Regions from separate parts of the Homo sapiens genome. Here all the other regions are linked to region 1. Evidence: fine-mapped expression QTL. A gene starts in region 1. Each other region holds a variant in brackets. All regions are shown on one strand. Distances are between the middles of the regions. Region 1 holds the start of MOXD1 (monooxygenase DBH like 1). Region 2 overlaps MOXD1 (monooxygenase DBH like 1). Region 3 has its middle 30 kb from the start of MOXD1. Region 4 overlaps CCN2-AS1 (CCN2 antisense RNA 1). Region 5 overlaps MOXD1 (monooxygenase DBH like 1).

What was found. PIP is the estimated chance that this variant, and not a neighbour inherited with it, causes the effect.
Region 2: its variant is the best candidate, but not a certain one, in a credible set for the expression of MOXD1 in sun-exposed skin (GTEx, PIP 0.77).
Region 3: its variant is the best candidate, but not a certain one, in a credible set for the expression of MOXD1 in gastroesophageal junction (GTEx, PIP 0.85).
Region 4: its variant is the best candidate, but not a certain one, in a credible set for the expression of MOXD1 in sigmoid colon (GTEx, PIP 0.53).
Region 5: its variant is the best candidate, but not a certain one, in a credible set for the expression of MOXD1 in unexposed skin (GTEx, PIP 0.87).

The regions. Positions count from the first base shown.
Region 1 is chr6:132,398,909-132,404,016 of GRCh38, forward strand. MOXD1 (monooxygenase DBH like 1) reads right to left here and starts at 2,567. Exons shown (of 12, transcript NM_015529.4): 1 at 2,255-2,567. The coding sequence starts at 2,518. RefSeq lists silencers at 2,271-2,320, 2,451-2,620, 2,641-2,780.
Region 2 is chr6:132,330,109-132,335,216 of GRCh38, forward strand. All of the region lies in intron 4 of MOXD1 (monooxygenase DBH like 1), which reads right to left. Among named protein-coding and RNA genes, the nearest start is that of MOXD1, 69 kb to the right of the region's middle. The variant C/T (reference allele first, on the strand shown) is at 3,053.
Region 3 is chr6:132,428,963-132,434,070 of GRCh38, forward strand. No RefSeq gene overlaps it. Among named protein-coding and RNA genes, the nearest start is that of MOXD1, 30 kb to the left of the region's middle. The variant C/T (reference allele first, on the strand shown) is at 3,094.
Region 4 is chr6:131,962,419-131,967,526 of GRCh38, forward strand. All of the region lies in intron 2 of CCN2-AS1 (CCN2 antisense RNA 1), which reads left to right. Among named protein-coding and RNA genes, the nearest start is that of CCN2, 14 kb to the left of the region's middle. The variant C/T (reference allele first, on the strand shown) is at 2,153.
Region 5 is chr6:132,322,257-132,327,364 of GRCh38, forward strand. It overlaps MOXD1 (monooxygenase DBH like 1), which reads right to left. Exons shown (of 12, transcript NM_015529.4): 7 at 1,675-1,841; 8 at 423-614. Among named protein-coding and RNA genes, the nearest start is that of MOXD1, 77 kb to the right of the region's middle. The variant C/T (reference allele first, on the strand shown) is at 3,086.

The DNA.
Region 1 (5,108 bases):
GCCTGGGCAATAAAGAGAGACTTTGTCAAAAAAAAAAAAAAAAAAAAGAGAATCCTATTCACTTTTTGGTATAGTTGCTGAAAATACTCTTCTCACACTAGTGTATGAAGAACCTTAAATAAATAGTTTCTAGAGAGGAGACTGAATTTCGAGCGTTGGAGAATGGAATCATTCAGCCTGAATAATAAAACTGAAATTGATACATTTATTTCATTTATATTATTTGGTGTATTTCATCTTATTAAACAGATTTTAAGTTAACTGTCTTTCCATTTAATTGAATAGCATAATTTTAATGCATTTTATATGTCCTAAAATGAGTAGAATGTTTATGGAAATGGAAGGTAAAATATGTCAGCCAAGTAAGAAAACGATCATCCTTTACATGTAAAAATGATTTTATTTCCTTAGGAATAAAAATGGACGGGAAGTCCTATTTATTGCTCATTAAATGTATTGAGAATGCAGCCAGTCATAATTTATCTCATAGTGATGTGTATTCACTAATTACTTTAAGAAAATTTCTATGTTTCAAAATCAATCTAAAGAGTACTTAACTAAGTCCTATGCAATCTCTATGAAGAACCACAAACAGGGTGAAAACACTGTAGTTTAACCAAGTTTATCTTTGTGGTGGGCCTATTATGGCATGTTGAATCAGAATTCTACTCACGGCTTTTCATTTGACATACAATTGGCTGGGCTTTCTAGAAATGCTACTCTTTGAGGGAAAATAATATGGAGTTAACATTCAAAGTATGTCCCATTTTATAATATTAGCATAGTAAGAGTTATGCTCCCTTTTGTAGAACATGCAAGGATAGTTAAGGGGCATACTATACTCCTCTCCCTAAACGGTAAAATTTCTTTTTTAAAAAACGTTAAATAGGTATTTAAATAAGGTATTGTCTACTTTATATTACAGGAGAATGAGTCATTCCCCTAGTGAGGCCTGCATTTGTGGTCAAATACTTGGTTCATAAAGTTAATGTCTGAGATGCTGCAGGAGGAGAATATTTATACATCAGTGACTTCAGCAGAATGCAATCCTCATAAAACTTTATTTTATTGGAGTTGTAAAGTTACTTATTTGGGGGAAGAAACGATTAATTTATGAAAAAATAGATAATAGAGTGGTTTTGAACTTTTTATTGTTGTCACTTTATTTCCTTCCAGAGTTAACAGCTCAGTGCCAGAATCAGCGTTCAAGTTTGATGGCATATTTCAGTCGAAAAGAACCTGGGGATAAAATTACTAAGAAGCGCACTCTAAATCCACGGAGAACACTGATTTAAATACTATCAAAGCCTTAATGCAATGCCAGAACAATTCGGAGTTTTCATCTGGATCAAGACTTTTAGCAAAGGGCAGTATGTTCGGATGAATTTTTATAATAACAAAGCGTGTACGTTCACCGCCATCCAAACGTTGGTCACGATCAAGCAAGGATGTCCAGGAAACCTAGCCACCTAATCATTCTGGTCATCTCACAATCTTCTTCTTCCTTTTTTTTTTTCTTTCTATTTAGTAAAGCACCCATGAACAGGCAAGGTGGTTACTTAGGCTCCTTCAAAGTAAATCAGCAGCGGTCAAATTAACTTTATTGGTTATTAAAGTAAGCCAAAGTTTTGTCACTTCATAGGATATTTTGCCTGGGGACCTTCGATTTTGGTCTCTAAATGTGGCTTCCTGAACAGCTCTCGGAATAGGAAAGTCCCTAAGCGATTCTTAGGGGCCCTTCATTCTTCTGGAGAATGGTGTAGCTGACATCAGCCCCGCGCCTGGAGGCTCCCAAATAGCCACGATTTGGGAAGTTCTGAGATTTCCACTCCTAGACAGCAAGTCCGCGACGTACTAAAGCGCTCTGTCCCTTCCCTCCTCTGAGAGCTGTCCCATTAGGTCCCCAAAGCCAAAGCCTAGGTCCTTCTCCCTTCCCATCAGGGATGAAGCGGGGTGTATTGCAGGTGTGTAGGCGGGGGGGCGTCTATTAAGTGGGGCGCTGGGGACAGGAAAGTGTTCAAAGAAGGAAACCTGCCTGGGGTCATCCGTGCTCGGCTTCCCTACCGCGCGCCTTCTGGGGCTCCGGGAGAGCAGGCGCTGCCCGCGGAGGCGAGAGTGAGCGTGGCCGGGGGCGCGGGGCTGCGCCAGGTGAGAGAGAGCTGCGGGCCCCGGGGACGACCCGCACCTGCGCCCTCTCTGGGGTCCGGACGGGACCGGGCTCGGCCGGGCGGGCTCCGGGAGGAGACGCGCTTACCTGGAGGTAGGGCCGCCCGTGGGCCACCCCGCCCACGACGATGTCGGCGGACGCCATGGCCCCGGTGGGCGAGAAGCCGAAGCCCACGTAGCCTGCAGTGCGCACCTGGAGGCGGAAGGCGATCTGGCTGCCCCGCTGGCTCCAGCCCAGCCAGTACTTGCCCTCCGAGTCCAGGAGGGTCCGGTGCGGATAGGTTCGGCCCGAGCCCCCCGCCGCCGTCCCGGGGAGCAGCCCCCACAGCAGGAGCAGCGGCCAGCAGCACATCCTCGGGCGCCTCCTGCCCGCCGGTACCGGCCTCCAGCCGCTGGGGAGTGAGGAGCAGAACGAGGAGCGGCAGCGGCGGCGAGCGGGAGCCCAGGGACCGCCCCTCGGGCCGGCCGCGCGCCCGCCCGGGAGGGGCAGGACCCGCTCTCCCCGCCCCGGGCCGCCTGCAGGGCGCGCCGCGTCCCGTCCGGTCCCGTCCCGTTCCGTCCCGTCGGGTCCCAGCCCCGCCAACTCTCACCCTGCCCGGCCCTTCCAGCGGATCCACTTGCAGCCCCCGACCCCTGACTTGGTCCCCGAGGTCGGGGCTCGGTGGGAAGGAAAGCGAGGGGCTTCCCGGAAAGAAAGGGAGGAGGAGGCAGGAGGAGGCAGACGCCGAGAGAGGAGAAAAGGAGGCCAGAGGCAGAGGGAAAAGGAGGAGGGCAAGAGAATCCTAGAGCGGGAAGAGCGTGGGCTCTGCGGGACGTGGGCGAGAGGTTACCAGGGAAAGAATGGACATTGACGGCAGAGAGCAAGTTTAGCCTGGAGAGGAGGAATTGAGTGAGCAAAGGGGGTAGTCTGGGGTGCGATGCACAGAAAGGCCCGTCCAGGGTAACCTTCACGTCTCCGTATCCGTTGCTGTCGACTTTCCAGAGCCTTTGTTCCCAGTGACGTCCCTATTGCAATGGAGGGACACACTTCACTTTCCCCAGCCCCCCACCTCGAGAATTTCTCTCACCCTCCCACCCTGCGGGGCCGCAGAGCTTGCTCCTCACGGCAGGAGTTGGAGCCCTGACGCTTGCCTTCACCTAGTTTTTGTTTGGTTTGGTTTGGCGTTGATGGGACAAAGTCAGCCAAACTACTTTGCCATCAGCAGAGAAGGTAAGGGGTGAATTGTCATTTGAGAGTTATATTTTAATTTAACATTCTCTTTTCTTGCTATTCCAAGTTCTGGCCATAACCATGTTTGTCAAAAGTTTGTTTTGTTTTGGTTTTGCCTCTACCTTTGACCACTCCTGTCTTTAGAATGCTAAATACAAATATGGCCACTAAAATTTACCTTGCTTATTTATTCCTTTATTTATGATCTGCCAAGTTTCCAAAAAAGTTCGAAATTTTGTCTTTATAAAAATACAAACAATGCAAAATAGAAAAACAAATAAGAGAGAATATCAGATGAGAAATATGGGTAAGAAGAGCAAGCTCCACACTAGCCACCCTACACTCCTCATTCTCTCTCCTCACCTCGTATTTCAGCCTGTTTTTCCCCCTGCCTATCTTTTCCCATAACTTTTCCAAAGTTACCGTCATGCATCTAATTTATATTCTTCTAAGGATACGGGAATATTTGATCATGTCTGGAAGGTGACCTGTAGGTGGATCTGCTTACCAAAGTGCTCAGGGACTTGCCTGGGAAGGGACTTTTCCCAAGGAGAGATTGGATCAAGGTCCGCAGGGCTGGCCAATGGCAATAGGCCAGCATCAGAGAAGAGTGATGTTGGAACCGCAAAATAAAATGAGAAATAAAAGAGCCTGCAAAGCCTTACAAGAACTGGGCATGGAGACTATGAAATATAAGTAGCTGGTGCCTCACCTCCACCAGGACCCACTGGGCAAATGTCAAGGGCAGTAACAGCCATACAGCAATGTAAGGGTGGCAACCTTAGAATTGGGTTTTTACAAGCACCATACCAGGGACGTGGCTTCAGCCATGAAGAAAGGAAGGGGGATATGGAGAGAAAGAGGAACAAAATAGGGGGAATGGAGTCCCAGAGGAGTGGCTCATGGCACCGGGTGGGACACACTCACTATCCTCTCACTATCCTGGGCAGGGATTTCAGGGAAGTTAAATTACTGCAGAGTGACTAAAGGCAAACTTTCTGTTTTGTGACCCTACTTTTATTCCTAGTGTGGAGGAACCTGGAACAAGCACATTGCTACATCTGCTTCCTGGGGTTCGTTATATAAACCCCAAATTCACATCTATTAGGACATTTTGTCTCCTTAATGAAACAAAAAGAGGTCATGCCTTCCAGAATTCTTCCCCCATTAACTGTTTTAGCTTTACCTTCCATCACTCCCATCTCACTCACCCATCGGCCTGTAGACCACATGAAAAATCCCTCTGGAATCCTCAATGGAGAGCCGTGCTATTTTGCATCACTGTGCCTATTCGCAGGGTTTGTCACTTCTGCCTTCCTTCCTTTGAAGTATTTTCTTGTCCTCCTTCTCACACTTCACTGTAAGATAGCATCCTATCTGTGGATACTATCCACGGTAGTCCCCATGGAATGTTCTGCCAGACCCCATATGGCACCCCTGACACTTCAGTGTACTTTCTGTCTACAGGCTTGTTTTCCTCCAGTAGCCTCTTTAGGTCAGGAACCATGTCTGGTTTCTCATTGCCTAGAATGTGGACATCTTGCAATAGGTGCTTAATGAATACTTGTAGGACGAGTGAACAGATGCATGCCCAGATGCTCCTGTAAGCATCCTCGTAACAAAGTTGTTCTGTGGGGGAAACCTTGGCCCCAGATGTAATTGAGTGTTCTGCATTGGTATTGAGGCAAACATAGAAAAGACCACACATGAATACACAAAGGAGAAAGTTTTC
Region 2 (5,108 bases), 69 kb before region 1:
ATGGAGCCTTGTACTTGGTGTAGGTGGGCTGTAGGTGTTGCATCAGTTAGAGCAGGGGTCCCCAATCCAGTACTGGTCCGTGGCCTGTTAGGAACTAGGCCGCACAGCAGGAGGTGAGCAGTGGGCAAGTGAGCAAAGCTTCATCTGTATTTATGGCTGCTCCCCAACACTCACATTACCTCCTGAGATCCACCTCCTGTCAGATCAGCAGTGGCATTAGGTTCTCATAGGAGTGCGAATCTTATTATGAACTAACTGTGCATGTGAGAGATCTAGGCTGCGTGCTCTTTATGAGATTCTAACTAATGCCTGATGATCTGAGGTGGAACAGTTTCATCTCAAAACCATCTCCCCCATCCTCCAGTCCGTGGAAAAACTGTCTTCCATGAAACCAGTTCCCTGTTACCAAAAAGGCTGGAGACCGCTGAGTTACAGGGTTCTTTTTTCTTTCCCCTCAGAGTTCTTGGAATCTTTGTTCAGCTGATAAAGTAGCCCTGGCGTGTTGCTAAATATCCAAGAGTTTAGCCTTAGAGTTCATCAACACTTCTGTGTTTAGTCCTAACTACTCAAATTCAGGCACCGCATTTTAAAATCCTTGCTTGCTCTCTACTTTCAGCATGCACATTTACATGAAGTGTTTTCAGCTCTTTTCTCCTATGGCTTTGTTTTCCATTTTCTCCACAGTTTTTCTCTTTTCTGTAGGGAAATCTAAGCAAGGGGGGAAATGGTATGTAGTGGGTCGTGTCTGAATGGGCAGCCAAGAAATTCCAGTTTTTAAATCCAGTTTTCTTCTGTGTTACATAGCGAGTCATGCCACACCTAAGCCTCAGGTACATTTTCAACATCACATTCATGGAAAAAACATTGCACACGGTTTTGTTTGCACTTGTTTTGTCTCTAAAAGGTCGTGTGGCCTGAAGGCAGAAACTTTTCTATTTTGCTTGAAAAGGGTAGTTATCGTTCAAGCATGGTTGCATAGTAACAATGATTGCACAGAAGTAAAACCCAGAATTTCTATAAGAATTTCATTTTTATGTCTAGTTTGAGCTTCTGTCTGAGACTTGACGTTTTTGGGTTCCTCGGTCCTCCAAGGGGGACAGGGCACTGCTAAGATGTCAACAGTAAAATATTCAGGCACATGTGAGATTTTTGCTAAATACCTCATAAATTCAGGCAGAACCTTAAGGTTGTACTGAGCTCTGTAAGGTAGATCTTGGGAAGAAGCCATTAGGGCAAAGGAGAGTTGGTTACTGTCACGACAGTTTCAGAAACTAGTGGCCTTCATTGAAGTAGAGGAAGAGGGAGTGAAGGGTGTGTGATGCTGGGTGGTGCTTGACTTTGGGGAGCTTCAAATAAACAGCTTGAAAGAAACTTTTAAGAGCAAGTGCTTTTTTTTTTGTCTTCATAGGAAGTGCTAAAACTAACACCAAACTGCAAAGCTACCAATTTATCCCTGGAATAATAATAACATCTGTCTTTTATTTAGACCTACTATCTACTAGCCACATATGAATCATTCTATGTATTTCATTTAATATTTACAACAAATCTATAAGAAAGATGTTATAATCCTTATCTTACAGATTTACTGAAACTCAGAGATTAGACAACAAGCCCAAAGTACCACAGCTGGGAAAGGGTGATGGGATTTTAAACCAGGCTAGTGTGACCCCAAAGTCTGTACTTTCCTACGGCTACACATTATTGTAGGAAGCGTGTTGGAGATGCATCAAGGACCCTGGAAGTTGCTGCCGGTGGGAGGGAGGATGAAAGGCTTCAGTAAGGCAAGTTGCCGACAGCTGTCATCAACAAGGGTGATGACCTCAGGAGCCAATGCCAGAAGGTACTTCTGGAAGCCACTAGCAGGGACCACCACATGCAGATGCCCTCAGAGGTGCAGTGCCAGACTGGGAGTCTTACACCTGGGGAGGGGGCTCATGGCCTCCCTGCCACTCCAGTCCCAGTGCCCCTTGGCCTCTAGGATGAGAAGACAGACCCATGGCCTTTCAAGGTGTTCCTTCTTACAAAGGGCAAATAACAAGGCTTCTCTTTGAAACTTGATGAGGGCTTCAAGAAGAATTAAACTGTAATCTGACCTTCAGATTACAGATTGAGGGTGCAGCCTAAAACATGAGGATTTCCTAAGCAAAAACACCAACCCATAAAACAACAAGGAACCTTGCTGCAAACTTGGGTACTGATCACGGGAGGAGAGGATAAAAAGGCTTGGAAGAAGCAAGCCCTTGGCAAAATAGAAAGGATGTGAGCAAAGACAGGGAAAAAAAGAAAGAAAAAGAAGTGCTTGGAAATGACATGTAAGGATAAATATAAATTAAGAAACTGATAATATGGGAGAAAAAATTACCTGACTATCAAACTCCTGAAAAATAGAAGAATAATTTCTAGAGAGGAAATTTTCAGACCACCATGGGGATATTAAGTGAGACACCAAGAATGTTCCTTAAGGATGGACATAACTTGTTTAGTGGAGGGTACAACTTGAGGAAATGGGAGTACTTTGATCAGTGCAGGACAGGGCCATTGGCTCAAATGCTTAGCACAGGATAGGATTTCCCACAATGCTTCACGCCATGCTTACAAAGCCTGATCAAGCCAGGGCACTGCTACCAATCCCCTGATGGAGGCTGCTCGTTATTTTCTGCTCCCACAACAAGTTCTACAAACATTTTAAGCAGTCAACAAACTTGTGTTTTAAACTATGTTATGCTATTCTTCTTTAGCCAAGGCACCATCTGAGGAAGCAGAGTGAGGCACACACAGAGCTCCATGCCCCTTCCTGCTTGTTGGCTGAATGCTGCATTAACCCGACTTTCTGATGTGCTGGGTAACTGTCCACGGAAAAGACAAGACTTTTGTTTTTGCATTATTATATTACTTGTAATGATGACAGAGTTATACATTTTTTAATTAAAAATACTGAGGCTGGGCCGGGCGCTGTGGCTCACGCCTGTAATCCCAGCACTTTGGGAGGCCGAGGCGGGCAGATCACAAGGTCAGGAGATCGAGACCATCCTGGCTAACAAGGTGAAAC[C/T]CCGTCTCTACTAAAAATACAAAAAATTAGCCAGGCGTGGTAGCGGGCACCTGTAGTCCCAGCTACTCGGGAGACTGAGGCAGGAGAATGGCGTGAACCCGGGAGGCAGAGCTGGCAGTGAGCTGAGATCGCCCCACTGCACTCCAGCCTGGGCTACAGAGTGAGACTCCGTCTCAAAAAAAAAAAAAAAAAAAAATACTGACCCTGTAATGTATCAGAGTAGCATTTAAAAAGTGTTCCTTATTCTGGTTACTTCACACATTCACATTATTATCACAATCACAGGGGGAATGCCAAGAGTTGCCTCTATTCAAAAATATTAAAATTGTACGAATTATTAAAGAAAGTCATGACCATAGAAAGTATACGAATATAGATATATTGGTATTCCTGACACTGGAATGAACATTTAATTTAATCTTGCTTGTAGCCTGGCTGTATGATGGCAGAAGAAATAAATAAAAAGAAATACAAAGCAGTGCATATGGAAGTGGAGGCAAGACACAAACATGGAAATTCCCCTGATGACATCAAACTATGTTATTGATCCCACATTCTTGTACAAAGGTGGGGTGTACAGACCCAGAATGGTGACAGGCCCGTGAGCTTACCTTCTGATGGCAAAACAGACCAGGCAAGGAGGGCCTGGCAGCCGTGGGTTATTTATTAACTACTGTGTGTATTAAAGGAACAGCCCAGAAACCAGAACACAGACAGAAAGGGAAAGACTTCAACCTGAAAGAGGAAAACAGTCTCTTCCATTAGATCAAGTAACGGGAGCTTTCAGATACACTTGAGATATCTTAGCAAGAAAAGCAGAGAACAACAATAAACAGTTGCTCAAGAGTAGCCAAAACCAAGGTGGAAATTAACACTGACCATAAAGCTGACCTTGACAACGACCGTTTTTCCTAATCTCATCATCTCTTCTTACGCACTTTATCCAGGTCAAATATGCCTCACATAGCCCCTGCAGCACAAAGAGTGCTTAATAACTATTTATTGAATTGAAATAAAATGAATACTACCCTTTCCATGAAGCCAACATCAATGAGGCTGAATCATTAAATTCATTTGCCTCTTAGTTTCTTGATTATCTCCACTATACTGCATCCCACTTCAGCTACTGAATCCCATTGTCACACCCTGCCCATGAGTACACTACCTCTGAAATTCTCTTTCTGTGCCTCTTTCCTTTCCTGTTAGCTCTTTCACACTTTTCCAGTTGCTCAGCCAGCCATTTTCTCCTGGAAGGTCACTGAACTCATCACTCACCAGCACTCACAACTGACCCAAATGCTCAAATGGTGAATCACTCCTGTCATCTGCTCCTTCTCATCCTCCACTAAGGACACTGGAGATAAACTTTATACAAGTATTCGCATGAGACTTCAAAGTTCATAACTCACACTTTTGCCTCAGAACGTCAATCTTTCTTTGGTTTTGCTCTGCATTCTGTTCAGCTCCCTGAAGTGGCTATCCTAAAACCTTTCCCAATTTATGCACACCTCCTAATCAGCTCTCAGCAAATGTCTTCATTATTTTGATGAGAGAGGAAAGCGTTTCTATCCACTCTGTAGCTGCCTGAGGGCAGAGCTGGGGGGATAGAATTTGATGCAAAGGACACAATATGATTGAAAAAATCTTAAATATCAGGAACCCATTTTATATATTCATTTTTTACAATGTAGAAAGTAATGAAACGATTCAAAGAATCTACACTTGGTGGCATCTTATTCTACTTAACTTGAGCTATACAGAGTGGGATGAGACATAGAGAACCTAAGACCAAGTGACTGGGTACAGAGATAATACCAAAAAATTCTATGTGTTGCAGAATTCCCTAGAACTTAGAACGAAGAAAATGTTTCAGAATTTGAGGCAAGAAAATCTTAGGGGAAATGTATATTTCCCTTCAGTGACTGAAAGAATGAGATCTTTGACAAAACTGTGCCTACCTGCTGATCTCTCTTCACCAGCACCTACCCTGAAAACAGATTCAGTTCAAAAAGGGCTTTTTGTGAAAGACACCGAGTATTGGAAAAAAAAAAATCCG
Region 3 (5,108 bases), 30 kb after region 1:
ATTAGACGTATATGCAATGTAACATTGGAAAACTTCAGAAGGAAAAATTAATACAAGCTTTTTAAGAATTGTATTCTTCTTTAGCCAAAAATAGTCTTTTTATGTTAGTTTAATTCCACAAAACAGTATGTTCATTGGTTATTCTTCACTAGAGAGGTGTGCTTGCTATTATAAATATGAAAGTGGAGAATAATGCTAGTTTCCAAATAACAAGAATGTGATCTTATTAGAACTATTCCTTCCTCTTCTCTTACAGATTTTTGTTGTGCCAACACAATACTAATCAAAGCATGGCCATTTCTTTTATCAAAGGAATACAAAGGAATAGTTAATTTAAACAATATTGCCCTTAGAAATACTACTAGGAGGGTCGGGCACAGTGGCTCACGCCTGTAATCCCAGCACTTTGGGAGGCCGAGGCAGGCAGATCACAAGGTCAGGAGATCGAGACCATCCTGGCTAACACGGTGAAACCCTGTCTCTACTAAAAACACAAAAAATTAGCCAGGCGTGGTGGCAGGGGCCTGTAGTCCCAGCTACTCGGGAGGCTGAGGCAGGAGAATGGCGTGAACCCGGGAGGTGGAGCTTGCAGTGAGCCGAGATCGCGCCACTGCACTCCAGCTTGGGCGACAGAGTAAGACTCCATCTCAAAAAAAAAAAAAAAAAAAAAATACTGCTAGGAGATACTTACTTGGACACCAGTATGGAGGAGGAGGTTATTTCTGGTTCCAAGAACATATGGATGTTTTAAATATGCCATGAGACTATCATTTGGCCGACCAGTCAGATCTCCACACGGCAACTGAACCCTGCCAGTTACACAGAAAATGCTTGGTGCTTTGGGATGAATTCAGCTGTCAGGGTGGCAGAGCAATGAAACATTCAAAAATCACTTGAAATCCATGGTCTACGTACCAAATTGAATACATTTGTAGTTTTCCAGGATGTTTTTCATAATATAGAAAATTTAAGAAGAAAACATGTACCAATTTTTATAGTGTATTCTAATGATGAGGCCACTACTATTGTTATTTTCAAGTTAAATAGAACAGTTAATAGTTTTTACAATTCACAGTTACATGTGAAAATACTAAATTCTCCTTTCTTCGAGATAGACATATGTTATTTTATTGAGACCAACTCTGAAATGAGTTTAGAGTCTGCAATTCACTAGGGAGAAAGTTTTTCAGGGTGTGTACAGGGGCAAACAGCAGCATGTATGTGAACCTGCTTGGAGGCAGGGAAGGAGCAGAGATGAGCCTGCCTTTCATCCGTCCTTCTAACCTGCAGCCCTGAGACGGAGCTGGCAAGCTTGTATCTTCTCAGCACATGGAACCCATTTTGCTGAGTTTGTAAAAACCTAAGTACATGTAATTTTCTTGGAGACAAGTTTCCCAGGACACCTGTGCCTGCATATGCTATTCCAGTAGGTATTCAGGCTATTGTCTTCTAGGAAATCTGAATTACATTAATTTAATAGTAATTAATGCAAGAATGTATATACAGATAATAGAGTAATAAGCAGTTGTTTTGAGGTCACAGGGACAACAGCCACTGAGAAGACAAAGAGACTCAGGTCTCAGTGGAAGGTGAGGAGGAGAAGACTGTGCTAACCTTTAGAGAATCCCTAAACTTGAGTGATGAACATGAATTTGGGCTGATTCTCTTTATTCATATACCACTGGAGATAGTAAAGTTGTGGAAGGGGTAGAGTATTGCAAGTGAAAAGGGAAGTCTACAAGACAATACTAGAGACAAGTAGGACCCTATGCCCTTACATGCAAATAACTGAGTATTTATCCCTCTGGGCCCCTGCTTCCTCCACACAGAAGCCTGAGAGGAACTCATTATGTTAATTTCTTAGGATATCTTTTGAAATATAGGATAAAAGAGTTAATTTCCTACTCCAAGGGATGGTAGCTCCATATACCTACTCATATGGCATCCAACATATCTTCACTCCTAGCTCTATCTCCTAAACTGTGGGTCCTGGAATATGAGTGCCTGAGACACTATATGCATCATACACACTCCGCTGCCATCTCCAAATGGAAAAAATAAATATGTATTGCCTGCCTACATATTACTCACTCAATAAATACTTTTTGAATGTAAAGTGTGAAGGGCAAAAATATAAACAAGGAACTCAGTCCCTAACTGAACAACATCATTCTGCTATGAATTTTTTAAATTTATTTTTATTGACACATAGTAATTGCACATATTTATGGGGTACAATGTGAGGTTTCAATACATGCATACATTGTGTAATGATCAAACCGTGGTAATTAGCATATCCATCACCAATTTATTGTTTCTTTATTGCAAGAACACTAAAAAAATCCTCTCTTCTAGCTATTTGAGATATAAAATACATTATTGTTAGCTGTGGTACCCCTACTGTGCAATATGGTATCAGAACTTATTCCTCCTATCTAACTGTAACATTGCACTCATTGACCAACCTCTCTTCATCTCCCCTCTCCCCCTTCTCCCAGTCTCTGGTAACCACTATTCTACTCAACTTCTATGAAATCAAATTTTTTTAGGTTCTACATACAAGTGAGATGATACAATATTTGTCTATCTGTGCCTGGCTTATCTAACTTAACAATGTCCTCCAGGCTCATCCATGTTGTCACAAATGACAGGATTCCATCCTTTTTATGGCTGAATGGTATTCCATTGTGTATATATACCACATTTCCTTTATCCATTCATTTGGTGATGGGCATTAAGGTTGATTCCGTATCTTTGCTTGTTTTGAATTTTTTTAAATTCTGAGGTCACATATCTATATCCATAATGTATCTTGTTGTACACAAGATTTAATACCCTATTTTACATTAGAAATTCAATAGATTACCTGGGTAAAATATTTTTATGTGTTTCCTTTCTTTGTGTATTCTGGGTATAAATTCACAAATTTGTTACTCTATTGATAACTTATTTCCCAATTATGAACCTATCAAGTGTTCACCTTTTTGTTTTAAAATCATTTTAAGTGGGGAAATGCTTTGAACTTAAGTATAATGCAAATGAGAGTTAAGATTGTTGTCTGCTTTGGACATATGGCTTCATTTAGCATGTTTA[C/T]ACTTATTGAACTTTTGGGAAAATATAATTGAAGAGAAGTAATATGAACATAGAATACAGTTTACTTAAGTCTTTATAGACCTCTTTAAACTCATTAAAAACAATCTATAGTGAATTTTCTTAAATGTAAACAATGTTGATTTTCAAATGTCAAAACTTGCTCACTCAATCATGTTCTTTCTTCAGATGGAGCCAAATGGTGTAGTCATCACCATTGTACAATATAATTTTAAACAAAATCTGAGGCTGCAAACAGAAAATGTCTCTTTATTTCTATTCTTCTTTAAAAGTTAAGTGTCAAGAGGTTTAGAAAGCAAATTTGGTGTTTCCTAATATTTTCTTCCTTGTAGTCCTTATTCTAGATATTCAATGTCTCTTAATTCTGTCATTTACTGGTTTAAAATATGCTTTTCAATATTTAGATATGTTATTTGCTGGACTAGTTGACTGTATTTTTTTCTGTGAAATTATATATATATATATATATACACACACACACACACACACACATATATATATATACACATACATATCTCCATTTTTTCCTGTATTCAATTGAGTCAAATTAGATATCAAGTAATGTGAGTGAGATACAAAAAAACTTAAGACATTTAAGTATTTTGCTTAGGAATAAACAAATAAGCATGCCATTCAATGTTTCAAGTTCTGCTTTAGAGAAAAATCATGGCATTATAGTTGAAATTAAAATGCATATTAATTATGTGTTAGGTTTACTCCATTCATCCTGCATGGGGTTGACTCTTTGAACATAAATATGAACACAAGTATGTTTAAAAATGATAATACCACAAATACCCTCAAAAGTATAAACCAGTTAAAACAAGTTTTCTGATACACCAATGCTAAGATTATAAATGAATCTCGGTAAGCATGGCTAGACATACCCAGAGTCATGTACCTCCACAGGAGCCAGAAAGCATACCTCAAAGGGGTTAATACAAAGGTGGGCCTGCCTGACACACAACAGGCTGGCGAACTACATCACCAGTCGGGTGTCTGGATTGAAAGAAGAGTCAATTTACTCACTGAAGCTTTCGATTGAACCAATAACCTGTTAAATTCCTGAGAGACTCCCTATTGAAGCTGAGAAGAGAAAGCATCTTTATCTCTGCTAAACACACTGCAATCTTCTCTCAAGTGGGACAGCATATTCCACAGAAGAAATTTCAGTTTTGAAGTAAAGGGAGCCAAGGGCTACTTCCAGGTCAATGTGTTTGATTCACTTTTTAAAGTTGTTGTCTTCTTATTACCATTATTATTTGAGAGATGATAAACTCATTTAACCCATAATGCCAGTTGATATGGTTTGGCTGTGTCCCCACCCAAATCTCGGCTTGAATCATAGCTCCCATAATTGCCACGTATGTAGGAGGGACCCAGGGGATGTAACTGAATCATGGTGGAAGTTTCCCCTGTACTGTTCTCATGGTGGTGAATGAGTCTCATGAAATCTGATGGTTTTACAAGGGGTTTCCCTTTCACTGGGCTCATTCTCTCTTGCCTGCCACCATGTAAGACATGGCTTTGCTCCTCCTTTACCTTCCACCATGATTGTGAGGCCTCCCCAGCTATGTGGAACTGAGTCCATTAAACTTCTTTTTCTTTATAAATTACCCAGTCTTGGGTATGTCTTTATTAGCAGCATGAGAACAGACTAATACACCAACCAAGAACCAAGACATAAGGAGGATGTCATAAGAGAGCACATGTTCACACAGGAATGTTCACAAGATGTGTAGATGGGAGAGCACAAGTCATGGGACCCAGATGAGTCCCCTTTGTCCCTGGGGCAGGGGAGTATTGGAGCTGCTTACCCTCAGTCACAGAGACTAGGATGCCCAAAGATATTTTGGGGGCAGGAGACAAATCACAATTCATCTAATCTTCTGTTATCAAGTAAAGTGCTTTTCTAAATATATTAATAGATGGAGACGAGAAAATCAAATCTCTAATCATTTAGTTTCTGGAGTCCTGGGCCAACTTTTGGTGAAAGT
Region 4 (5,108 bases), 440 kb before region 1:
TCCATGGCATACTGTTTTATGCCAACAGCCCCTTGTTACACTTCTGGCCTTTGGCCTCATGACCTTTCTTCAAGCCAGTGCCTGCCTTAGTTGTTCCTATAGTGTCTGCCATACATTTGTGGTCTCTAGTCTCAGATGTGTCCTCGGTTCTACTATGTTGTGCTTTTAGTTGCTCTGGTCAGTTCTTTGCCATCCTTTCCTTTGTGTCCCTTCCAAGCCTAACTGCTTCCCTCCAAGGTCCTACCCTGTCAACCCTTCCTCTGCCTCCCTGCTGATCAGCCTTCCTTTCTACATGAGACTACCAGGTGTGAAAACCTCCAGCCTTTGTCTCCAGGATTGATGGGCTCTCAGCTTCCTATTCGCTTCTTTAGTTTGAGCTGCAGTGTTCAGTTCTACAGCCACTAGCCACATAGGGCTATTTCATTTAAATTAACCAATGTTAAAATTCAGTTTTTCAGTTGTACTGGTTGCATTTCAAATACTCAGTAGCCATGTACAGCTAACGGTTATTGTTTGGATGGCATGGAGAACATTTTTATCTTTGCAGAAAGTTTGACAGAATAGTGCTGGTTCAGACAGACCTCCACTTGGGCTTTAGATCCAAAAGCATAAGTCTCCTATGGAACCATGTCACATATGGAACCATGTGCTCCTTGAAACCTATGGAACCATGTCTCCTATGAAACCATGTGCTCTTTGTAACCTGTGGAACCATGTCTCCTATGGAACCATGTGCTCCTTGGAACCTGTGGAACCATGTCTCCTATGGAACCATGTGTTCTTTGGAACCTATGGAACCAAGTCACCTATGGAACCATGTGCTCCTTGGAACCTATGGGACCATGTCACCTATGGAACCATGTGCTCTTTGGAACCTGTGGCACTACATCTCTTATGGAACCATGTGCTCTCTTTTCTTTTCATTTTCTCCTGTCTTTCAATTTGTTTTTCTCTAGCAGCTTCTTCTTCCCAACCTATAAACATGGCTACATTTCTCTCACATAATAAAGAAAAACCCCAAAACAAATGAAATAAAACAACCCTCCCATTGTCTTAACAGCCTCTTTTCATTGCTTGTTTTTGCACTGAAGCTCCTAAAACACACACATACTCACACAGTGACACACAAATCCCCTGTGTTTACTGTCTCCAAATACACACCTTCATATTACCATTCAACCCATTGTAATAAAGCTCCTGACCATGGCACTGCAAATTATCACCAAATAACCTCTTTGTTGCCAAATCCAGTGGATTCTTTCCAGCTCTCATACAATTTGATCTCTCTGTAGGTATTTAGTTGAATCCCATTCTGTCCATCTCTTTGACCATTTCCTTTGTTCTCCTTTGCAGACTCATTTCCCTCTGCCTACCCCTATGATGTGAGTGACCTGTAGTCTTTTGTCCCTAGTCCTCTTCTTACATATTCTTCTCCTGTCACATTGTTGATGGTTGCCTGCTGTCTGGATCCCAACCGGAAACTCGGTTCTGAGTTCATTTGTGCTATTAACAACACATTAATCTGAATGTCCTATTCAGATGTTAAGTAAGCATAGTAAAAACTAAATTTGTTACTCATCTCTACTTCAAAATCTTTTGCCTTTAGATGTGAACCCATCTTAGTGATTAGAACACTGTCTTCCCAGTCACTCCATACTGAGGCTTGTATGTTGTCTTGTATTCTTTTTTCTCTTTCAGTCCTTATATTTGATGATTCATAAAGCTCTGTGGACTCTACCTCTCATGATAACTTCCTAACACATCATACCCTCAACATCTTTTGCTTGGACCACTGAATTAGTCTTTCTGCTATTAACTGGTCTTTTAACTCACACTATTGCCCTCCAATTCATTCTCTCCACTGCTGCCTGAGAAATCTATCAATCTACAGTGCTTATTCACCTGCTTAAAACCAAACCTTTGTGTGGCTCCCATTACCTCTAAGATAAGAGCCTTTGTCTGGCTTCTATGTTCTCCATTCTTATCTATCAGTTCCAGGGCTCCTGCCCTATTCTTTGGTTTTACCAGTGCATTTGAATAACTTACACATTTTATCATGCTGTTTCATGGCTTTATAAGTTGCTCACGATTGCTCTCCAGCACTTGGAGCAGTGGCTAAGTATGTTCAATCACATAAACTATTTTTTTTTTT[C/T]TTGAAACAGGGTCTCACTCTGTTGCCTAGGCTGGAGTGCAGTGGTTATGGTTCATGCAGCCTCGACCTCCTGGGCTCAAACAATTCTTCCATCTCAGCCTCCAAAGTAGCTAGGACTACAGGAATGCACCATCACACCTGGTTAATTTTTAATTTCTTTTTGTAGAGACGGTGTCTCGGTATGTTGCCCAGGCTAGTCTCAAATTCCTGGCCTCAAGTGATCATCTTGCCTCAGACTCACAAAGAGTTGGGGTTACAGGCGTGAGCTGTCATGCCCAACCCTAATAAACTTTTGACTCTAGTAGGAAGCTTTTTTTCTGTTTGATCCAGTAAATATATACTCACACATACACATTCACAGTGAAACAAAAATTTTGTAATTTTATCGTTACTGGATGTGATGCCCTTGGTATTTTAAAATACGTTCCATTTCATTTTAAAGAAAATTCTAGTCTTCATCTCCAAGTTTATTCTACTGTCTAATTGACATCTTGGAAATAAGAGATATATATATATCTTTATATATATAAATTATATATGTAAATTTATATATATTTATTATATATACGTGTACACGTGTGTGTGTGCATGTGTGTGTATCCTTGGAATACCAAACGATCAGCATAAACTATCTGAATAAGCAGCTGAGGGAGGTAGTGTGAAGATGTGAGGTCTGGGGATGCTCTGGACATTCTGGGAGCACCTGTGGTTGCTGGGAGACGAATGTGTGGAGTTTAAGAATGAAAGTACTGCAGTGAAATACAGAGCATAAGCACAGAAGAAAACCTTATTTTTGGTACTAAATCAAGCCTTGCCTAAAGTTACTCCATCTCTCAATTTATCAATTTCATGAGCCAATATGTTCCCCTAACCCTATTTTAAAAAGTTCTCGATATTGTACCATAAAATGTCCTAGCTGATACAGACTTCACCAGTGTGAGAGAGGCATAATTTTATTTTCATATTGATATTTTCTGATGTAACTATTTATATAATTTTCTAATTCTATTATAGTATTAGGGTAGAGCAATGCTTTTCAACCTTTTTTAACATAATGGAATATGTAGAAAATGATAACATTTTAATGACATTTTGGGGCAAAGACTTTCTAAAATCTCTAAAATTCTGAAAGGGAAAGGGTATAGAAACTCTTCTGATTTAAAGATATCAAAGATCATCGGAGGGCTTACTGGCAAATTGCTACCATTTTTTTTCTTAAGTTTTTAGGTAATTTAAGGTTTTTCTTGGAAGTTGACTTCTGAGTATTTGTGAATAACTCTCACATAGCATCTGGTACAAACAGATCTACCACTGAATGAATTTTTTATGTAAAGTTTGGGGACTAGCTTGAACTTTAAAATATTATAAAATTTGGCTAAAACTGCATAATTACTAAGGTCTTAGAAACTATGATAATTTATAAAATAGCTATTTATATCAATTCATAGGTAAATATTTTGTATTTATTGATTATATAAATAAAATTTCTGAGGCTTATGTATTCATACCTGGTAAGTTTGTGTTCTTCAGAATATCAGGAAATACCATGTTTATTTTATTCTAACCGTAATTTACTAAAGTAAATAATTCTCTAGAAAATTGGCTAGTAACACTAGTAGGTGTTTAGGAAAAGTTGCTGATTGACTGGCTGATAGAATATTAAAAATCAATGCGGCTGTCAAAGTTGCCTAACCTTAGGCATAAGAGGATCTTAGTGTGAAATGCTTCCAGACTAATAAATGTATTCAACTGTCCCAAATTAAAAATCAGTGAGTCATTTATTATTGTTTACCTCTCAATGAAATAAATAAGTCACAAATATTTTGAGCATTTGGTCTGTTTCTAACATTGTGTTAAACACAGCGAGATGTAAAAAGATACCTGGTTCTTGCTTACAAGGAGGTTATGATCTATTTGCAGAAGCAAGACGTATATAGACTAAAAGTTCAACCAGTGGTCCTCGCAATTGTGTAACTTGAGAACCACAGGACACAGAAAACTCTGAAGGATTGGTGTAACGCAATATGTCATGACCCTGAAATTAGAATTTCTGAGGCACTTTGAGGCACAGATGATGATAGAACCACACACCATGAGGCTTGAGAGCTCTTTCTCAAGTGTCGGTGAGTCAGCAGAGGTCGGTCATTAAGTGGAAATAGAAGGATTTAGCACTAAGTGTTCCACAAAGGAAGAAATAACCAACCTGAAAAAACCCAGCCTGACGTTTTTTGTGGACATAGCTGGGCCAAAGGATGAAGAAGAGAGGAGCAGCATGGGCATTTCAGACCTTAGTAGTGGGGACAACAGTCCTGACTTTGGGGATGCCGTGGCACATGGAAGAGAGTAAATGGGCCATTTTGACCTGGGTCAACATGGGGATTGAAAGATTAAGGAAGGGACTGCGTTGTAAGAGCCAGAATCCTAATTTTTTCTTCTTTCTTTTATTCTAATGTTGAATACGTTGCTTTCATTTCCAGTCCTTTAGTTTTTTGAAATACACACACACACACACACACACACATCTCTAACATACATATTGCTCTATACTAATTCAGGGATTAGCAAATGTTAAGAAGACATTTACTGACTTACAGGGTAAAATGAAGAGAGCCTCAAAACTAAGAATTAGTAATACTGTAATTTTTGTTAGGCTTCTGTTTCTCCTCTTGCTTTAATAAACAGTATGTATGTATTTTTTTCTTCCACAACCTGCAAAATGCCAGGCATATGGAAAAAATACAAGGCACAGTAAATGCGTATTGAATTCAGGGACCCTCTTTTATGATTCTCCATGATTCCTACAATGATGCTTGGTATGCAGTGGACATCCAGTCACTATGAAGTAGTGGAAATATTTATATTGATGAGAAAAAAACATAGCTAAAGCTGTTACTTGAGAGGCTAGCTCACAAATTTATCATTAGTTCATTCATTCATTCATTCATTCACTTAGTAA
Region 5 (5,108 bases), 77 kb before region 1:
TCCTTACATTCCTTTTTACTAAAATGAAACTTCTAAAAATATCCTATCTCTTCAACATAGCATAAAGACACCTCTATTTTACCACTGCAGGAATTGCAACCCAAAGAATCACTAACTGGAATGTCAAGTATAAAAAAAGAGTAATGTTTAGTCCTCAGAACCTGAGATTTTTGTTTGGGGTTGTTTTTATTTTTCAGTCAACAACTTGAATTGCTCCTGGGAATTATAAGAAAAATGAGTTTCAATTTTGGAAAACAGATCAAACACATTCCATCTGGGTTGTACAACACCCACAGTGGGTGGTGTTAAGAATACAGATGCAAGGAAAAATTCATTTCACTAGTAGAAACCTTGCCACATCTCAGCAGATATGTCTCATGACTTTCATAACAGTCAATGAAAAAGAACAAAAACATGCATACTGGTAAGATTGTTTGTTCTTCCTTTAGATACTGAAACTCCTGGAAATTGAAGTCAAAATCATCATCATAGGCAAGTAATTTCATTTCCTTCCCTTTTCGAAAATGACGCAGCCTGATGCCTCTGCCAGCCAGGTGAGCATGGAGAAGAACAGCAAACACATGAATTCCACTTGGCTTTTCGGCTTCCAGAGCCTACAGGAGACACCGAGGAAGACCCGATTAGCCCACATTAATGCATGTTCAGACAGTTTACATTCAAACACACTTGGAGGGACAACTGAGATAAAAAGCTAAAGCAATTTAAATGAATGCTTGAACTGAAAAAGAGTTTGAATTCGGATTGTTCAGTGTTCTCCTTGTGAAGCAACATTTGCCGGGAGAAAAGTAGGGGAGCTGATGCTTATAAGGGGCCTCCCAGACCATTTCTACATGTTATCCTCCTTTTTCCTTCTTTTAGGAGGATAAGAGGCAATAAACATTCTTAGCAAAAAGATTCCAGTATGTTAGTAACCTGAAAACCCAAATTCTTAAAAGGAAATATTATTCCCACTTTTCCAGATAAGAAAGCGAAAGTGGGTCAATGGAATTAAATGAATCGCCCATGGTCCTACAGCTTGTAAATGAGGTCATGGCAATTTGAATTATGAACTATGGCCTAAATAACTCAGAAGAGCATAATCTTTCCACTTCACCAGTCTGCCATACTGTCCTCAACCACAATATCATATAATTCATAAAGAGTATGATCCATGTTGAAATATTTTCATTAAAAAACTTGAAGTGAAAATTGTCATTACTAAATATACTTTTCTTCTATCCTATATATTTTTTTATATTAGTTATTTTTGCTCTGTGGTGAAGAAAGGGAAGGAAACTATAAGGCAGAGAAAAATGAAAATAAATGATGGAAAAATCAATATGGATAAAAGGTAAACTAGAGAAAAGAAAAAGACTACACAAACAAAGGTTGAAATTGTAAAAGATGATATACAGCATGCAACATGCAACAAACAAAAAAGGTAGGAGTAAGAAGAAAAACACCCTGCCAACTACTTCTGTCTTTAGAGTTCTACTCCTGTAGCTTCAAGATTTAAAAAAGCAGTCAAAAGTCCTACTAAAATTGCGATAAGGGTTTCACAGTGTGTCAACAAGAAAGGAATCGATAATAAACATGTGCGGAATTTTTCACACCACAGTTTCTAAGAGCATTGATGAATCTGCAGAGAGCAGCTCAGACTCAGATGCTGCATACCTCTTCCAGGCACTCCAAAGTGCAGTGACCCTCAGACTGGAACTCAGGCATCCCTGGAGGGATGGTATGGAAGAGGCTCACCCAGAGGCCAGCCTCAATCACCCCAGCATCATATTTCCTTATATCCATTGTGTAAAATAACCTCAGTCCAGAATTATCTATTAAGCCTAGAACAAAAGCACATAATTAAAGTGATTTTTGGTTCTTAAAATGTTTTCATTCCCAAGAAAATTCTTGGTTTGAATTTTTTAAAGTTTTCATATTCTGTTGAAATAGGTTTATTTATTTTCCATAAACTGTCATGAGGGAAAGGGATTCAAGCAGAGATTAGTGGCAGACAACATTCAGTTTCACAAACAAGAGTTAAAAGATGAGTAGCCATATTGCCTGCAACCTTTGTGGACTCACACAGCATACTACAAGAGAAATGTTTCCGTTATCTGGCTGTTATATTCCACAATTATCTAACATGAAGACAGAATGAAGATTCTAAAGTCATTCATTAGAATATAGAATAAATAACTTAATAAAACTTTTATTTTATATTGTTTCGAGATGAAGTTCAATAACATTTACTTTGAGGTAAAACCTCCTTAGTTTAGAAACCATCTGCTGAAGAAAAAAACTACTAAAGATTCACTTTATTTCTTTAAAGTTTGTCACCATTTTCTTCTTCATTCAACAGCCATTCAATCAACACACAGTCATTAAGAATCCATTATGTAAATGGCACTCCATTAGGCATTGTGGGGATGAGAGATGAATAAGACACACTTGTCGTTATGAAATATTCATTACAGGGAGGGAGAGTATGAGCCCCAAACATTTCATAAATTCATTTCATTAACTTGGAAATTAATTGACTTCCTTCTGCAGTAACTAACAGATTGATTCCTTCCCCTCAGTTTCCTTTCTTGTCTCATTTAAATCAATCAGCTTAATCTATTTCTAGTCAATCATTTTTAAACACAAGGTCTCTATATCAAATATTCCTCATTGCATGTTATATACCCTTCACTCACAAACACACACACACACACACACACACACACACACATACTTAGAAGATATCCATTACTTTTAATTTTTTTCAGATGTAATAAGTTGTTAAAATTAAGTATTTCAATAATTATCCCAGGAAATTCTTACCTCTCAACCTCCCTAACAGCCTTGGAAAAAAATCCAAGCTTTACTTTCCTGCTTCATGAGTTTGTAATTGTGAACATAAAATATTTGCTATGTGTTTGTTGACTCCAGCTTCTTCAGATATTCAGGGTCATCACAAGGAAGCACTGTGATGTGACAATTAAGGACACTGACTCTGGAGCTGACCAACCTGGATGCAAATCCCAGCTCTGCTGCATATGAGTTATGTCACCTGGGGCAAATGCTATGGTTAAATGTCTATCTC[C/T]TCCAAAAAGTAGGTTTGAATGTTGTTGAAAATTAATGGCCATTGTGATGATATTGAATGGTGAGAGCTTTAAGAGGTGTCTAGGTCATGAGGGCTTGGCCCCTGTGAATCGATTAATGCCATTATTTCAGAAGTGGCTTTGTTCTCTCTTGCTGTCTTTACCCTTCCACCATGTGAAGCCTACTGCCATGTTATGACCCGTAAGAAGGCCCTCATCAGATGCCAGTACCTTGTACTTGTACTTCTCAGCATCCAGAACTGTGAGGAATAAATTTCTGTTCATTATAAATTACCCAGTCTGTGGTATTCTCTTATAGCAGCACAGAACAGATGAAGACATAAAGTTACCTAATCTGTGCTTCAGTTTTCCAGTATGGAAAATGGCCATAATAGTAGCACTACTACCTCATAAGTGTGATGTGTGGCTTAAACACCAAGTTCTAAGAACAGTGTTTGGCACAAATGAGGTGCTCAATAAATGGCAGCTAGTCACACGTACAGTGGTCACACATCTACCAGGGTTTCAATCAATTGTTAAACAAATAAATCATAAAAATCAATTCTCCTTTTGTGTTATTATCAGTGCAGATACAAATAAGCATGATAATGTAGAATATCTATACTGACCTTAGAATTTTCTCTGGACATATCTTGCAAAATTTTGTTTTGTATTTTATATTTTTGGCATCTACTTCCTTATAAGTTTGACAGGGAAAAAATATAAGTAGAAATTCCAGTTGCATTTTGTATAGTTAGGTTCATTAGTTGCATTAGCTGTTTGGAGCATTAATAGATAATCTAGTAAATAAAGTAATAATTTCTTAAGCACATATAAAATGATTATTAAAAAACTTTTCTGGAAACAAATTCGTATTATGTTATATTTATAAAAATAAAATTACTATAATCTAAAATTTGGTCTAATTATGTACATGAATAAAAATAGAAAGTACTAAAAATCCTGAGTTCTCTATTAACCTGTTAGGAAAATAAGCTTATGTTTCATTTTTACATTGAAACTATGAGAAAGTCAACTTAATTGACAACAGAGAAGGCAAATAAATTAAGCCTTCTACTTTTGTAATAAAGACTAAAAGGAAGAAGTAGTTCACATAGAATTTCCAATTGGAGAAGTATTATACATTGTATAGAATATTTATTCTATTAATAATTTAAAATCAAAAATGTAAAAAATTTTTAAAAGTTGCAATATAAGACATATTCAATAATTAATCCCATTGTTATTGTGATGACAATTTTTATGTTTTATAGTCACATATGATTTCACGGAAAATCTAACTTTTAGAATTTATTAATAGGTTATTTTGCTTGGTTTATGAAAGTTTTAAACTTTTAACATAGATTCATGGTTCAGAGTATGGGATATAATTGGTGGGTGGAAATTAAAGTGAATTCAGAGAGAAACTATTTCCTATTAATTACTTTAGGGTAAAAAAAGATACTTTATTGGCTTGCTCACAAATAGAATAGCTTGACACCTACTTTTATAGAAACATCACTCTTTAAATATCATACCACGTGTCCTCTCTTCAAAATCTATTATTCATGCTGCTGCAGCCAGAGTGGTCTTTTCAAAATACAGATCTCAATATTTGACTCCACTGTATCAAACTCTTCAATTGCTTCTCATTGTCTTCAGGGTAAAAATCCTTAATGGGTCCTACAAGATCTTAGATGGTCTGCTTCAGCCTTCCTCTGCAGGTTCATCAGCATCTTTCTTCACTGCACCCTAACCCTTCAGCATCTCCAGTCACCCAGATGAACAGTTTGATTCTTTAATGAAGACTTTTTAGCCCATCCCCACCAATACACACTCCTGGCTGGATTAGGTCACCAATTAAATACTCTCATAGTGTTAGGTATCTTCTTTGGACCAATTGGCATACATATAATTTCATATGATTGCTATGAAAAATTGATTGTTTCTTTTTCACATTGGGCTATAATTTCTGTAAGGGTGAGAACAGCATCTGTTTTTCACTCACTCTATATCCTCAAGCAC